Linked DNA regions of Homo sapiens: region 1 is linked to region 2. The links come from fine-mapping of genetic effects on gene expression. A gene starts in region 2. The other region holds a variant in brackets. All regions are shown on one strand. Distances are from middle to middle.

Region 1 (8,326 bases), 230 kb after region 2:
CCAGAATACAAATGCCTAGGATAAGAATTAGACTGTCTTTTTTTTTTTTTTTTTTTTGGCAAACTAACATTGAAATGCCTCCTTATTTGGAAGAATCCCACTCTGGATACCAAAGAGGGTTAGATTCTTGGCCGGGCGCGGTGGCTTACGCCTGTAATCCCAGCACTCATAATATAAAAATTAGCCAGGCGTGGTGGTGCGTGCCTGTAGTCCCAGCCACTCAGGAGGCTGAGGCAGAAGAATGGCTTGAACTCAGGAGGCGGAGGTTGCAGTGAGGTGAAATCGCTCCACTGCACTCCAGCCTGGGCGACAGAGCAAGACTCCGTCTCAAAAAAAAAAAAAAAAAAAAAAAAAAAGAGGGTTAAATTCTTCCATCTCCAGGCACCCTGGAAGTGAGGGCTCAGAGCAATGAGGTTTGGCTGATGGAAGTCCTCCCCTGCAGGACTCTTAACCTTGGAAGAGGGACACAGAGACACAGGGAGATTTAGGGGTCTCCAAGGGGTGGCAGGGCTGCAGGAAAAAGAGTCCTTTGGCACAACATAGTTTCTTGTGTCTACTGCATCCCAACTGGGTTTCTTCCCTGACATGTCTGAAGCCAGGCTCTCAAAAGGCTTGGTTTCCCTTGATTTGGCCCTTTTTCTGAGCCTAGTCTCCAGTTGTCTTGTGAATTCTATGAGGCACTAATATACTTTCCATAATTCTATCTCTGATGAAATTAGCCAGAGTTGGTTTATTTTGCACTTAAGAACCCTCGCCATATATCCTCTGATCTATTTGCAGTTTTAATCTCAGGATGGAAGCATGTGGGAGGCGAATGGGGATCACTAATCCTTCTCATGCTGTTAGGGGGAAACACAGGTGTGAACACATTGCTTCTGGGGTGCTTGTGTGTGTTTTAAATACATATATAACAATCTTACTGAGATACAAGTCACATACTATAATATTGACCCTTTTAAAATATAGAATACAGTGGGTTTTAGTATATTCGCAGAGTTTAGCAATCTTTATTCTGGTTGTTAGTTTTTGTTTTGTCTTAAATAAAGCTCCTTTCAAGCGTTTCTTCAGACCCAAGGGACTACTCGGAATTTACACGACCTACTCCTGTCATGGCCTTTACACGGAGCAATTCCAAGGGTTTCCTTTATAAATAACGTCGTATCTCCCTAATAGGAAGACGTCTGAGTAAGGTCACTTTTGGTGAGACATTTACAGTCTCTCATCTCTAAGCTCACTCAATTCACCTAATTTAATTCGAGCAGCTCACTCATTCGCTCACTTATCGCAGACCCCGCCTCGGGACTGGGCCTCCCTGATTCGCTGGGGCCGAGTGACGTCCTCAGATCGCGACCCTGGGAGTGGAGTGGGGGCAGCGTGGTTATGTGGCTGGACCGCCGCGGATGGCTCAGGGTTCTTGGACATTGGCGCTACGACCTTAGGCGCCCTAGCTTTACCAGGACTTGGAGTGGCGATAAGGGCCCAATGGCAGAAACAGTGTCTACCCAGGTTGGGACAGAGGGCGGGCTGAGGGCTTCGCATCAGCAAAACGGTGACGCTGGTGGCGACGCGAAGGTTGAGCTGTCCCCCGGGCCCCCGAAGCCGGCTGGCCGGGAAGTGGAGCCGGCCCCAGTAGGCGGGGAGCATCCCTCGGCTGCAGCCCCAGGCCCGGGCAAGCATAAGAAGCGGCGGGGCGCAACCAGGGAGCGTGTCGTGCCGCCCCCGAAGAAGCGGCGGACCGGGGTGAGCTTCGGAGATGAGCACTTTGCAGAAACCAGTTATTACTTCGAGGGCGGCCTGCGTAAGGTGCGGCCCTATTACTTTGACTTCCGGACCTACTGCAAAGGTCGCTGGGTGGGCCACAGCTTGCTGCACGTCTTCAGTACCGAGTTCCGAGCTCAGCCCCTGGCCTACTATGAGGCCGCGGTCCGGGCGGGCCGCCTGCAACTCAACGAGAAGCCGGTGCAGGACCTCAACATCGTGCTCAAGGTGGAGTCCTGATGGGGCTGGCCAGAAGCGGGCGAGGAAAAGGGGCCGGGTTTTGTTTTGTTTTGTTTTGTTTTTTAGTCTTAGTAAAGCATAGGTACTGGATTAAAATCATGGCAATTCTAAAGCGTTCTCGCTTTCATTTGGAACACTATTTTAGCCCGTTTCCCACCTCCGCAAGTGGCCAGGGTGTCTGTGCTTCAGGACTCAGCCTGTTTATCCTCTTCCTCAAGGCAGCTTCCTTGTTTCCAAGGGACAGAAGTTGGAATTTTCATAATTCCTTTAAACACCGTCTTGTGGCAAGGGCACTGATCACTTTACCCTGCGTTGTAGATCTCTGTGCAAATAGTAATAATAGGGGCTATCATTTATGTCTCTTTACTGTGTGCTGGGCACAAAGTTAAACATTGTATGTCCACTAATTCTAATGACAGCCTTGTGAAGTAGGTATTGCCACTCCATTTTACCTCTGAGGAAACTAAGGAAACTCACAGGGGTAAGGCTATCAACAGTGCCACTACCAAAGCCTATGTTCCTATAACTACTACTTAAACTATTTAACATAGAGTTATGAGATGTCAGGGATAGAGACTAGAATTGTTTAGCCCAGTGCTTTGACTCCTTTAAAATTCCATCACATCTATGAGGTACCAGACACCCCTGTCAGAAGTAACACTGTTTACCTCTCAGTAACACTAGTTTACCATGGTTGTGAGTGGAGAAAAGGCGATTACAGCATTTGGGGAATGGATGGTTTTGGAGTAACTTGTTCCATTGATCAATCGATTTGCGTCAATATATCATACATTGACGAATTCCCTCTCCTATCCCAATTTCTAAAGCACAGATCTGGTCTAACCCTCACATTCCACAGGAAGCAGAGACCCAGAAAAGATAAATGACTTGCCCAAGAGCATGTAGCGAGCCTGTGGCAAATCCTGGTCTAGAGCCCATATCCCTGGACTTAAGCCTTAGTTTTGTTTGTTCAAGATCGTAATAAGTGATGATTTATGGAGGTTTTTTCCTCCATTAAAAAAATTTTACCTTGATTATTTATTTTTTTTTTTTTTGAGACAGAGTCTTGCTCTGTTGCCCAGGCTGGCGTGTAGTGGCGCGATCTC[G/A]GCTCACTGCAACCTCCGCCTCCCAGGTTCAAGCGATTCTCCTGCCTCAGTCTCCCAAGTAGCTGGGATTACAGGCATGTGCCACCACGCCTGCTAATTTTTGTATTTTTAGTAGAGACAGAGTTTGACCATGTTAGCCAGGATGGTCTTGATCTCGTGATCCACCCACCTCAGCCTCCCAAAGTGCTGGGATTAGAGGCGTGAGCCACTGCGCCCGGCTAAAAAATTTTACCTTTTAAATACCTTTATTGTAGAGAAAATACAATTAGCAAAGCCAAAAAACATTCATAATCTAACCACCCAGAGATAACACAGTTAACATTTTTGCATATGTCCTTCCAGTACTTTTTCAGTGCCAGCTATCTGCCTGTGTCTGTCTGTATTTTTACAAAATGAGATCACACTCTGCACACTGCTTTTTCAGCCCAAGATGTGCTTTCACCATTTTTCCATGTCAGTGAGGAACAGGGGAAGCTGGATATGAAGTTGACTGATTACAGGCTGCGGTCCCTAGGCTGACTTATTACCTATGTCTTTGACAGGACAATGATTTCTTGCGGAACACAGTGCACAGGCATGAGCCACCAGTCACAGCAGAGCCCATTCGCCTGCTAGCTGAGAACGAAGATGTGGTGGTTGTAGACAAGCCTTCCTCCATTCCCGTTCACCCCTGTGGCCGCTTCCGACACAACACAGTTATCTTCATCCTAGGCAAGGAGCACCAACTCAAGGAGCTACACCCCTTGCATCGGCTTGACCGCCTTACCTCAGGGGTGCTTATGTTTGCCAAGACAGCTGCAGTCTCTGAGAGAATTCACGAGCAGGTTCGGGACCGGCAGGTGAGTCAGGCTTTTGTCTCCTACAGGCCACTTCTTGGGCTCACGAATGCTCTGTGTCAAAAGGGCATCATGGAGTTCCGAAGTGGTCCTTCATATTTATCTGGCCATCCTTCCTACCTTCCTACCTTAAGGCAGGTCAACACCTAAAGTGCCAAATGCAGGATATCTCATATGTTTCCAAAAAAATCTTTAGAGATGGCATACACTGCCTCTCTTAGTAGTTTGCTATTTTGAAGCTTTAAAATGCTGACAAGGCCAGGCTCACACCTGTAATCCCAGCATTTTGGGAGGCTGAGGTGGGAGGATAGCTTGAGCCCAGGAGGTAGAGACCAGCCTGGGCAAAATAGGGAGACCCTATCTCTACAAAAAAAAAAAAAAAAGGCCAGGCGCAGTGGCTCACGCCTGTAATCCCAACACTTTGGGAGGCCGAGGCGGGCAGATCACGAGGTCAGGAGATCGAGGTCATCCTGGCTAACACGGTGAAACCCCGTCTCTACTAAAAAAAAATACAAAAAATTAGCTGGGCGTGGTGGCGGGCACCTATAGTCCCAGCTACTCGGGAGGCTGAGGCAGGAGAATGGTGTGAACCCAAGAGGTGGAGCTTGCAGTGAGCCGAATCGCGCCACCGCACTCCAGCCTGGGTGACAGAGTGAGACTCTGTCTCAAAAAAAAAAAAAAAAACTTACCCTGGCATGGTGGCACATGCCTGTAGTCCCAGCTACTTGGGAGGCTGAGATAGGAGGATCACTTGGCCATGGGAGGTTGAGGCTGCAGTGAGCCATGAGCATGTCACTGCGTTCCAGCCTGAGCTATAGAACAAGACTCCGTCTCAAAGAAATAAATTAACATAAGAAAATAAAGTGCTGACAGGCTGAGCAAGGCTTTTAAGATTATGGGGAGAGCCTGCTTGGTGAAAAGATTCTAGATGTAGTTGGAAAAGTCTTGGGTAGAGGAGTTTAATGGTAATGATTGTTGTCCTGAGACTTGTAATTCTGGATCTGAATCATAATACATTTATTGAGTGCATGCTATATACCAGGCTTAGTATCAAGCACATTAGAGCCTAACTTACTGAATGCTTATCACAGCCCAATGAGGTAAATGCTTTTCTTTTCTTTTCTTTTTTTTTTTTTTTTTTTTTGAGATGGAGTTTCGCTCTTGTTGCCCAGTCTGGAGTGCAATGGTGTGATCCTGGCTCACTGCAACCTCCGCCTCCTGGGTTCAAGCAATTATCCTGCCTCAGCCTCCCAGGTAGCTGGGATGACTGGCATGCGCCACCACGCCTGGCTAATTTTGTATTTTTTAGTAGAGACGGGGTTTCTTCATGTTGGTCAGGCTGGTCTCGAACTTTCGACCTCAGGTGATCCACCCACCTCAGCTTCCCAAAGTGCTGGGATTACAGGCGTGAGCCACCTCACCCAGCTGGTAAATGCTTTTCTAATTTCACATTTTCTAGATGAGTTAGTAGGATTTAGAGGTTAAGTAATGTACCCAAGATCGCAAAACTGGCGAATGGTAGAGCTGGAGTTTGAATTTTCTGACACTGGTCCTTATCACTCCACAAAGAGTTTGGACTCCATGAATTTAGGCTTTGTACTGACTTTCTCCCTCTTCCCTCCTATGTAGCTGGAGAAGGAGTACGTGTGCCGGGTGGAAGGGGAGTTCCCCACTGAGGAAGTGACCTGTAAAGAACCCATCTTAGTGGTGTCTTACAAAGTAGGGGTGTGCCGTGTAGATCCCCGGGGCAAGCCCTGTGAGACAGTGTTCCAGAGGCTAAGCTACAATGGCCAGTCCAGTGTGGTACGGTGCCGGCCACTCACAGGCCGCACACACCAGATTCGAGTCCACCTTCAGTTCTTGGGCCATCCCATTCTCAACGACCCCATCTACAACTCAGTTGCCTGGGGTCCTTCTCGAGGCCGGGGCGGCTACATTCCCAAGACAAACGAGGAGTTGCTACGGGACCTGGTAGCAGAGCACCAGGCCAAACAGAGCCTGGATGTGCTAGATCTCTGTGAGGGTGACCTGTCCCCAGGACTCACAGACTCTACGGCCCCCTCCTCAGAGTTGGGCAAGGACGACCTGGAAGAGTTGGCTGCAGCTGCCCAGAAGATGGAGGAAGTAGCTGAGGCAGCCCCTCAGGAGTTGGACACAATAGCCTTGGCATCAGAGAAGGCAGTTGAAACAGATGTCATGAATCAAGAGACAGACCCACTCTGTGCAGAGTGCCGGCTGGTGCGACAGGATCCCTTGCCCCAAGACCTTGTGATGTTCCTACATGCCCTACGCTATAAAGGGCCAGGCTTTGAGTACTTTTCACCAATGCCTGCCTGGGCACAGGATGACTGGCAAAAGGACTGAGGGTGTGGCCAATGGAGGGATTGCTTCTTGGGTTGTGACAAGGATGGGCTATAGGGCAAGGGCTGACCCCATGGGCTAGTACTTGGGGTTTCTATAGGAATGAGGACGGGCTTCTAAAGAGACCTGCTCATACTTGCTACCTCCTTCCAGTGGGAATTTGGAGACTTTTTGGTTTGTAAATATATCCCTTTTTCTAACATCTTTGATGTCTGGTTTTCTTCCGGCTTCTTTTTTATTACTGATGTAAAATTCACATAACATAAAATTAACCACTTTAACTAGCCAGGCACAGTGGCTCATGGCTATAATCCTAGTACTTTGGGAGGTAGAAGTGAAAGGATCACTGGAGGCCAAGAGTTCAAGGTTAAAGTGAACTGTGATTGTGCTGCTGCACTCCAGAGCCTAGGTGACAGAGTGAGACCCTGTCTCTTAAAAAAAAAAAAAATTAACCAATTTAAGATGTACAGCGTAGTCACATTTAGTACATTCACAGTGTTGTACAACCATAACCTCATATATTTCCAAAACATTTTCATCACCCCAAAAGGAAACCTGTACCCATTAAGTAAGTGGTCACTTTCCACTCCCCTTCCACCAGCCTCTGGCAACCACTAATCTACTTTCTGTCTGTTTGGATTTGCCTGTTTATTCTGGACATTTTATATAAATGGAATGATAAAACATGTGACCTATGTCTCTGTTTCCCTTGGCATAATGTTTTCAAGGTTTATTCAACTTGTAGCATGTATCGGTACTTCATTCTTTTTTTATGGCAGAATAAGCTGTTGTATGGATATACCACGATTTGTCTATCTGTTCATCAGTTAATGGACATTTGGGTTGTTTCCACCATTTCATTATTGTGGATAGTGCTGCTGTGAACATTAAATATGTTTTCAGTTCTTTTGGGTATATACCTCACAGTGGAATTGCTGGGTCATATGGTAATTCTATGTTTAAATGTTTGAGAATCCACCAAACTTTTCCACAGCAGCTGAACCATTTTATATTGCCACCAGCAAGCATAGGGTTTCAATTTCTCTACATCTTCACCAACATTTGTTTTGTTTTGATTATAGTCATCCTAGTAGGAGTGAAGTGGCATCTCATTCTGGGTTGTTAGTCTTTTTGTTGTGGAGTGTAAGTGTTCTTTATATATTCTGGATGTGAGAGTCTTAGCAAAAAGACTAACAGCCCAACTTAAAAATGGGCAAAGGATTGGAATAGACATTTTTCCAAAGAAGATATACAAATGACCAGCTAACATATGAAAAAAAAAAAAGCTGAACATTATTAGTTATCAGGGAATGCAAATCAAAACTGTGGCATTAGTATAAGAATAGACATAGAGTGATGGAATAAAATCAAGAGTCAAGAAATAAACCCATCCATCTAAGGTCAATTGGTTTTTGACAAAAGTGCTAAGACTGTTCAGTGGGGAGAGAATAGTCTTAAACAAATGTGTTTTTTCTTAAACAGTTCGTGCTGGGAAAACTGGGTATTCACATAAAAAAGAAAAAAGTTAGACCCCTACCTCATACACAAAAATTAACTGAAAATAGGCCAAGGACAATGGCTTACACCTACAATCCCAACACTTTGGGAGGCCGAGGCAGGAGGATCCCTTGAGGCCAGAAGTTTGAGAACACCCTGGGCAACATAGCAAGACCTTATCTCTACAATAAATAAATAAATCAGCTGCGTGCGATGATGTACGCCTGTAGCCCTAGGTACTCGGAAGGCTGAGGCAAAAGGATTAGTTGAGCCCAGGAAAAGTCTTAGAAGAAAATATTGGGGTAAATCTTCAAGACCTTAAATTTGGCAATGGGTTCTTAGATACAACACCAAAATAATAATCAATGAAATACAAAATAAATAAATTGCACTTTATCAAAATAAGGACTTTTGCGAATCAAAAGACACTATCAAAAAAGTGAAAAGACAGCCTACAGGATGGGAGGAAATTCCAGAAGAGGAATAGTTGGGTATATGGTAATACTAATTTATATTTTTGGAAGAGCC
Region 2 (8,326 bases):
GCTAGCTTTGCCACTCCATGGCTAGGTGTCTGGCCCCAACTCTCAGGCCACAGCTTCTTTATATATAAAACAAGGGGACCAGAACTCCACAGAGCTGTTTCTACAGTAGGTCTGGGGAAGGACCACCAGGACTTTCACCCTTTAGGGACCTCAAAGAGACCCCGGGCCGGCTTCCACTGAGCCTCCTTCTGGGGCCTTCTGCTCAGAACCTGGACAAGAGCTGTGGGCTCAGAGGGGAGGATGGGAGGTCTTGGTGCCCTCCTCTGATAGTGAGGGAGAGGAAGGAAGATGTTCTCCAACGCTTCCTTTCAGCTCTGAAAATAAGAGACTAAGAGACAGAGAAAAGAGAGGACAAGGGGGTGAAAGATGAACAAAGCCAAGGAGGGGAGGGATGAGGTAGGTGTGGGCTCACCCCTTCTGCTGCCTGCCCTGGCCGGGCCTTCTCCCCTCAGCTGGCTGCAGTCCTGTAGCCTGTGTAGACAGAGGGAGTCAGGTTGCTGGTGCACAGAAGCTGCCGCGGGCCCCACCCTGACACCCCCCTCCCCGAAGCCCAGGCCCAGAATTGAAGGCAGCAGGGAGATGGTGGGCCCAAGAAAGATGGGAGACCCAGAGCCTTGAACCCTGGGCTCGACCAGAATGCCCAGCAAGGTCCTCTCAACCCCGAGGAGGGTCCCTGCAGCCCTCCCAGCAGTGCCCGAAGCCAGCTCCATCCCGCACCACAGGCAACCTGCCCAACCCAGCCACCCACGTGGACTTGGCCTTGTCCAGGTCCCACGGGCGGCGCCAGTCACCCTGTGCGTCTCTGTGCCGGGCGAGGCGGGCTAGGTCGATCTGCTCCCGCTCCTGCTTCCACTGGGCATAGTCCCAGCCCGCCTCCGGGGGCTCCCCCACCGGCCGGCTCCAGGGCTCCCAAGAACCCTGTAGGGAGAAGACACTCAGAGTGAGGGGGAGAAGCAGGAAGAGGCTTGGGGTGGGGTTTGGAGACTCCAGGCGCTTCCTCTCTCAAGGTTTCCACATCTCCAGCTAAAAATTAGGCCTGTTCCAGCTCTCCCGTGGAAATGGTTTCCATCCACTTGTTAGCTGTGTGTTTTACATAAGTAATTTAACCTCTCTGTGTCTCATTTCCTCGTGTAAAATGGGGAGGATCTCCGTAGCACCAACCCACAGGGGTGTTGCAGGGGTATGCAGACGGGCCGGAGTGGGAGGGGCCCTGGAAGCTGTGAGCAAGGGCAAGGACTAGGGGCTGCTGCCACCTAGAGGTCACACCTGGCACTTGGCCAGTCAACTCCACCCTCCTGCCCCCTCCCCAACTCCCATGCCACCATCAGCAGGGCTAAATAGGGGAGGGGGCTGGATCACATCTTTGGCTTAAACTGTCTCCCACTTCAAGGCCCACCCAAAGTAGAGACTGGCCAGAGAAAGGGAGGAGGAGCAGGAACTCCTGCATGTGCTCCCTTGGCCACGTCCCCGCAAATGAGGGACATATCTGACTCAGCTTCTCTGCCTCCCCCAAGTGAGGACCTTCAGATCCATGTCCCCATCCCCTCTTGAAGACACACCTTCCGTGCAGAATCTGAGCTGATGGCCACCTGCGTGGGGGGGCTTCGGGTCACACGCCCTCCAGGTGACCCCTCTATGCCTTGGTTCCTTGCTCTGGTAGGCTTTTCACTTACAATCCGTTTGCCCTGGGGAGGATGAAGATGGGCAGTGCAGCAGAGCCAGGGAGGAAGAGGCTGCCTGCCGATGCCTGCACTCCCCACCACCCTGCTCACCTCTGCTTTGTTCTCCATGGTCACAGCCAGCTCCACCAGCTCCCCTAAGCAGAAAGTACCCCCGTGGTCCTCAGCATCCTCATCCTCAAGCATCTCGTTGGTCACTCTGGGTCCACAGGTACCCCTTGCCCAGTTCCTGCTAACCACCCGCTTTTCCTGCAGAACAAAGACCCTCAGGCCACATGGGCAGTGCTGGGCAGGACCTGGGTGCTGGGTCCTCTCGGTGGTTCCCCAGGCCTGGGTTCCAACCCCAGCCCTCCCTGCATTCCCCACAGAAGAGCTGACTCCCACAGGGTGTTCACATGCCAATGGCATGAGGTTATCCAGGGCCCAGGGCCACCCAGCGGCCCAAGATGCCACAGTGGCCCGTCATCTCTGAGCTGGGAAACCCAGAGCACTCAAACAATGGGTCTCTGTCCCTCAGACACTGCTCCTGGCATTCAGCCCCAACTTCTCTGTCCCCCACTTCCTGCAGGGTTTTAGCCCCTGGGGCTTGAGGTTTAGGAGTGGCCTGTGCTTTGTGGCATAGGCGCAGGGCTGTGGACTGGAAAAGGGTATGAAGATGCATCTACTGGGGGTAGGGGGGCTTTCAGCTGTGGCTCTTTGGTGGGGACAGCAGTGGTCCGACTGCAGGAGGTTGGGAGCTGGCAGGTGCACCCCAGAATAGTTAGTAGGAGAGGGGAACAGAGGCAGCTGTCTTTCCCCGACATGGTCTGGGCCTCCACCTCCTTGCTACGAGCCCTGTCTCCCAGGGTGAGGCTTACACCGGGAACCTGGCTGATGGTAACGGTGAGGCCATCAGGCTGGAGGAGTGCTGGTGTGGTCACAGCCATCCCCCCCTGCTCTGCCTGCCGACGGTCCTCCTGGATCTCCTGTGGGAGGGCTGGGGGTCAGCACACGCCATGGCCCCCCAGGTGCACAGAGACATAGATGCTGATAGGCCTACACAGAGAGACACCAGTGGGACACCAGGGGGCAGAGGCGCCACATCACACATCCCCAGGACCCTCACCAAGCCTCTAAGAGGGACCATGCCCACCCTACCCCTGGCCCCAGCCCCAGAGGCGCATTGCTGAGCCTGCAGGGAGACCACCACGTGTGGGGCACAGGGAGCGGCAGCCAAGTGGTTTCTCCTGGCCCTGTGGCAGCCCACTCACCTGGTACCTGCGGAGCAAGGCCTGGTTCTTCTTGCGCAGGGCAACTATCCTCCGATCCAGCTCTGCGTCCTTCTCCTGCCTGCTCATGGGGGACTCGGCTCTGGGAGTTCCCTGCAGAGGCAGGGAACCCAAGCTCCTGACTTCCGGGTCCCCCTCTCACCAGTCCCCAGCTTTCACATTTTCACCACCCAAGGAAGAGATCCCAGACCCACAGCTAAGGTCACCCAGGAAGGAAGGGGATTGCTTAGGGAGATGGCCCAAATAAGGCCCCAAGCCCCCATTCCAGCTAGGCCCGTCTGCCTGTCCCTGCCTCCTCAGGGGGCTCAGGTCAGGGCCTCATACCCCAAGCCACAGCTCCCAGCAGTGGGGTGCCCCTCCCCCAGCTCTCCAGGGAGCTTCACTGCCGAGCAGAGCCTGGAATGGGAGTTATAAATGGCTCTGGCAGCGGAACCTGCCGTGACTGGGAAGCTGCCAGGGGATTCGGGAGGTCGAGGGGGGAGCTGTTTGGCTCCCAGATCCACAACCAGAGAAAAAGGAGAGGCCCTGGCTCCGTCCTGGGCTCTCAGGCCCTGGACCCCGCACCTAGGCCTGTGCCCAGCCTGGAGGAAAGAGCCGCTCCCAGGGGCCCAGCCTCTCCAGGCCGAAAGCTGCTGGTAGTCGGGGCGGAGAGAGCCAGCTCCCCTGGCGGCCCCAGCCCAGGAGTCACCCTGGGCAAGCCATGTCTCTGCATCAAGATTCCAGGTTCCTCTCTGTCTGGATGCAGGTTCTCTGTTGTGACCCTAGTCACAGCCTTCTTCCTCCCAGCCCCAGCTGTCCCCAGCTGCCCCCAGAGGGTGGCTGCCTGGTATCCCAGCCCCCTCCCAGTCCCAAGAAGCCCCCTGCCAAAGGCAGACTGCCACTCACAGCCGAGTGCATGGCAACGGCGGGCACCGAGAGAATTCCAGAGCAGCCCCTGGGGAGCCAGAGTGGGAGGAAAGCTGGAGCCACCGGAGCCGGGCCTCTGCCGGCCTCTCCCTGCCGGCTTCGCTGCTCAGCACACGAGATCATGTTGTGATTACAAAAGACTCCTCTGGGCTCCCAGCCAGGAACGTCGGGCCGCCACCCCCACCCTTCCACTCTCAGAGGGCGAGGACCAGGGCACTGGCAGCTGGCTGGTCCTGCCTAGCACCTCTCCCTGCCCCACCCCAGCGTCCCCAGACAGACTGGTAGGGACTTCTCCCTGGTGGGTCAAGCCTACACAGGAGGCCTGGCTGCCTAGGCCCCAGCAGGACCCCAGCCTGGGCCTGCCTGCAGACAAGATGGGCAGCCAGCGTAGGCCTCTGTGCCTCCCATGAGTAGAAAAAGGCCTACAGCACACAGATGCGCCTGCCCTCTCCTGCTCCTTCTCCTCATCAGCCTTGGTTTAAGTAATTCAAAGGGATCAAGAAGCTCACCTCCCCTAGACTACCAAGTACTACCACATCCCTAAAATGACAACAATAGTCATTCATTCTTTTAGGTTGGACATTGTCTTCTCTGTGCAGTCATGCACCATATAATGACGTTTCACTCAACAATGGACCACATATATGATGGTGGTCCCATAAGATTATAATGGAGCTACAAATTCCTATGGCTTAGTGACATTGTAGCCATTATAACATGGTAGCACAGGGCACTACTTATGTGCTTATGGTGACGCTTGTGTAAACAGACCTACGGCATGACAGCCGCACAAAAGTATGGCACATACAAGTGTGCACAGTACAGAATACCTGATAATGATAATTAACAATTATGTTACTGGCTTATGTATTTACTATACTATACTTTTTATCATTATTTTAGAGTGTATTTCTTCTACTTACAACAACAACAAAAAAAAGTGAACTGTAAAACAGCCTCGGGCAGGTCCTTCAGGAGGAAATCCAGAAGGCATTGTTAGCATAGGAGATGACAGCTGCAGGCCTGTTAATGCCCCTGAAGACCTTCCAGTGGGTCAATATGTGGAATGGAAGACAGTGATGTTGATGATTCTGACTCTGTGTAGGCCTAGGCTAATGTGTGTGTGTTAGATTTTGAGAAAAAAGTTTAAAAAGTTAAAAAAAAGAAAAAGTTTCAAAATAGCAAAAAAACTTATAGAATAAGGATATAAAGAGAAAATATTTTTGTACAGCTGTACAATGTGTTTTGTTTGTGTTTTAAGCTAAGGGTTATTACCAAGAGAGTCAAAAAGTTTTTTTAAATTAAAAAGTTTATAAAGTAAAAAGGTTACAGTAAGCTAAGGTTAATTTATTACTGAAGAAACAAAAATATATATTTTTTAATTTTTCATTTTTTGAGACAGTCTCACTCTGTCACCCAAGCCAGAGGTCAGTGACATGATCATGGCTCACTGCAGCCTCAACCTCCTGGGCTCAAGGGATCCCCCTGCCTCAGCCTCCTGAGTAGCTTGGACAACAGGCGCATGCCACCATGTCCAGGTAGTTTTAAAATTTTTTGTAGAGAGAACGTCTTGCTATGTTGCACAGGCTGGTCTTGAACACCTAGGCTCAAGTGATCCTCCTGCCTTGGCCTCCCAAAGTACTAGGATGACAGGCATGAGCCACCATGCCTGACCAAAAAATCATTCGTATAAATTTAGTCTAACGTAAGTGTACAGTGTTTATAAAATCTATAGTAGCAGACGGTAATGTCCTAGGCCTTCAGATTCACTCATCACTCACTCAGTGACTCACCAGAGCAACCTCCAGTCCTGCAGGCTTCATTCATGGTAAGTGCCCTATACAGGTGTGCCATTTTAAATCTTGTACACCATATTTTTACTATATCTTTTCTAAGTTTAGATATGTAAACACTTAGCACTGTGTTACAGCTGCCTACAGTATGCAGTACAGTAACCTGCTGTACAGGTTTGTAGCCTAGGAGCAATAGCTATACCATATAGCCTGGGTGTGTAGTAGGCTGTACCATCTAGGTTTGTGTAAGTGCTCTCTGTGGTGTTCACACAATGACAAAACCACCTAACAACGTATTTCTCAGAACATAGCCCTGTCATTAGCAGACACATGACTATGTTTTAAAGCACAGCCGCTTCCAAGAGGCTCTGTTGTTTGGGTCTCTAGCCCTTTGGTATGGTGAGCCAGGCATTCCTCCAGGGCCCTTGCCATGGCAGTTCAGAGCTGGTCAACAGCCTTCCTCCCTCGGGCCCTAAGTTTGGGCCCTTCCTGGCCTTGCTCTCCAAGACTGGCTTTTTCAGCCTCTCTGAACCTGGCAAAGGAATCAGCCCTTCTCAGGAAAGCTCCTCCCCCATATCTTCCTCATACAGCTGAGACTGGTCTCCCTGCCCAGGCTCCTAGAGCCTCTGGGACTCAAGGCTTGGGGGTGCTGAGAGGAGGGTGGTCTTTCTGGACTAGGAATTCGTGGAGTCTGTTTCCTCAGCTACAAGGCCCTGAGCTCCAGGCCCTCAGGTGAGAATCAGAAGCCCCTGCATTCCCCACATCCCTGATTGACCAGGCCAGTTTCCCAAATGCCACAACTCGTCCCCTCTGTCTCCAGAGCAGAAACCCCCGCTGCCTTCTTTCTCCTCCCAGACCCACCCAGGCAGCCAGAGGTCCAACCTCCACCCCTCCAGAACTGCCCTTTCCTCCCCACTCCCTCCCCCAGCTCCGCCAGGCTTAGCCCTCTTCCTGTCCAGGCCTTTGCACAGCACCCCTGGCCCCACACCCCATCTCCACCACCCCAGAGTTCCCATCTTGCTTGCAAATGCCACTGCGCTCTCCCTTCCTTTCCTGCCGGATGTCCCCACTGAGTCAGACTCGTCAAACTCTCCCAGCAACCATGACGCACCCAGGCTTTGTGCCCTGGGCCTCTCTCACACACATACACGCACACACTCTCTCTCCTTCTCCCAGACGCTCTGCATCCTGCCCCATACAGTGGACTGAGTTCCACGCCAGCCTCAGGAGGCTTCAGAAGCCTCCAGAAGCCTCAAACTTCCCTTCGCCTGCCCCGCACTGTGTTGGAGCTGGGAGGCCCGCAGAGCACTTGCTGGGGAGGGAGACCTAATGCTCTCCAGCCTCTTCAGAACTCAGGCCCGGACCAGGTCTGGGGAGGAGATGTGTAGATGGGGTAAGGAAGCTACAGGGATAAGGCAAGGCTGTGTACCCCCTCCCCCATTCCCAGACAAGGTGGGGGCAAGAGAGTAGCAGGGGGGTAAAGGCATGGGCACAGGCTTATCGCCTGTGGGATGGCCACACAGCTCTTCTGGAAGGGCCTGCAGGAACACACTCCCCTCACCTAGGGCAAAGGCCTTCTGGTCTGTCAGGCTAGAGGGGTATGTGCCCAAGACAAACCAACCATCATACGGGGGGTACCAGCAGCTGCTGACTGTGTGTTTCCCAGTGTTATTCACACATGACGTCACACCTCTGAGCAGCCCCCACAGTCTCCCACTTTCCCCAGAGTCTGTGGTTGGCCTGTCTGCTCTCCATTGGACAGAGGCTCTCTGAGGGCAGGAATGACCTGCCAAGTGCCTCTGGATCCCCAGTGTCTGGCACGGTGCCCCTGCATACTAAAGAACCTCCATCAGCACTTCCAGAATGAAGACATGCGTGAATTGTGCTTGCCATCCTGTGCATAGCTGTGGGTATCCTATGCATAGGCTGGGACTGCCTTTCTGTCCACCTAGAATGTACGCAGCCCTGAGGGAGCCGGTGGGTGGTAAAGGTGCCCTAAGAGTAGCCCCACCCCACCCCGGGGAGAAGCCCACAGGAAGCAGGGGAGATGGAGAAGGACCAGCTTGCCATCCCCATGAGACTGGGTGTCTGTTTCTCTGTGTCGCCACTAAGGGGCAGCAGAGCGACAACAGCCTGTTTTTGGGTGCGGGAGGCGGTTCCCTTTCTCTGTTGTTCCACAGGGCCTCCCCCAAGTCCCTGTAACCTCCACCTCCCAACTCCATCAGACTAGAGAAGCCATCTAGTTGTAGAAGACTTATTTTATTGATGAGGAAGCTGAAGCCCAAAGAGGTGGCGCCCTCTGCCCAGGTGGCACAGCCTGTCTGTGATGCCGCTGAGGCCACACACCCGGGAGCTGCCTCCTGCCCAGGGCGCCTTCACCGGCTGCCCCGCCAATGCCGTTCTGCTGATCCTTCCCTCTGTGCCCTCCCTCTCTCCACCCGGGGTTGGGCCGGGTGTCCCAGCACCTCGGGCACAGGCTCTTCCCTGTGGTCCCCCACCCTCCCAGGCCACCCGCTGGCTCAGGGGGTACCCCCTGAGGTCCAGAAGGGAACGTATCTGGACCCTATTCGTGGTCCTCAGAGCACAGACCTGGGACCAGCCCTGAGAACGAGATGGCTGCAAGTTGGGATTCTCACTGAGGAGAAAGAGGGAAGGGGCTGCAGGGGAGGAAAGACCCTCC

Direction of the effects. Positions count from the first base shown, and alleles are read on the strand shown. Sizes are in standard deviations (SD) of each study's normalised expression.
As copies of A replace G in region 1, the expression in liver of the gene that starts at base 3,964 in region 2 goes down (large effect, 1.0 SD a copy in GTEx).

The links. PIP is the estimated chance that this variant, and not a neighbour inherited with it, causes the effect.
Region 1: its variant is fine-mapped to the expression of CCDC9B in liver (GTEx, PIP 0.93).

The regions. Positions count from the first base shown.
Region 1 is chr15:40,567,958-40,576,283 of GRCh38, forward strand. It overlaps RPUSD2 (RNA pseudouridine synthase domain containing 2), which reads left to right and starts at 1,342. Exons shown (of 3, transcript NM_152260.3): 1 at 1,342-1,986; 2 at 3,647-3,943; 3 at 5,570-6,992. The coding sequence starts at 1,381. The coding sequence ends at 6,304. RefSeq lists enhancers at 1,284-1,613, 1,675-2,174, 1,924-1,973. The variant G/A (reference allele first, on the strand shown) is at 3,105.
Region 2 is chr15:40,336,976-40,345,301 of GRCh38, forward strand. It overlaps CCDC9B (coiled-coil domain containing 9B), which reads right to left and starts at 3,964. Exons shown (of 11, transcript NM_207380.3): 1 at 3,833-3,964; 2 at 2,930-3,040; 3 at 2,537-2,644; 4 at 1,773-1,928; 5 at 1,560-1,685; 6 at 749-918; 7 at 413-471. The coding sequence starts at 3,844. RefSeq lists enhancers at 1-147, 3,057-3,860, 6,805-7,304, 7,488-8,085, 8,086-8,326 and silencers at 7,655-7,764, 7,785-7,874.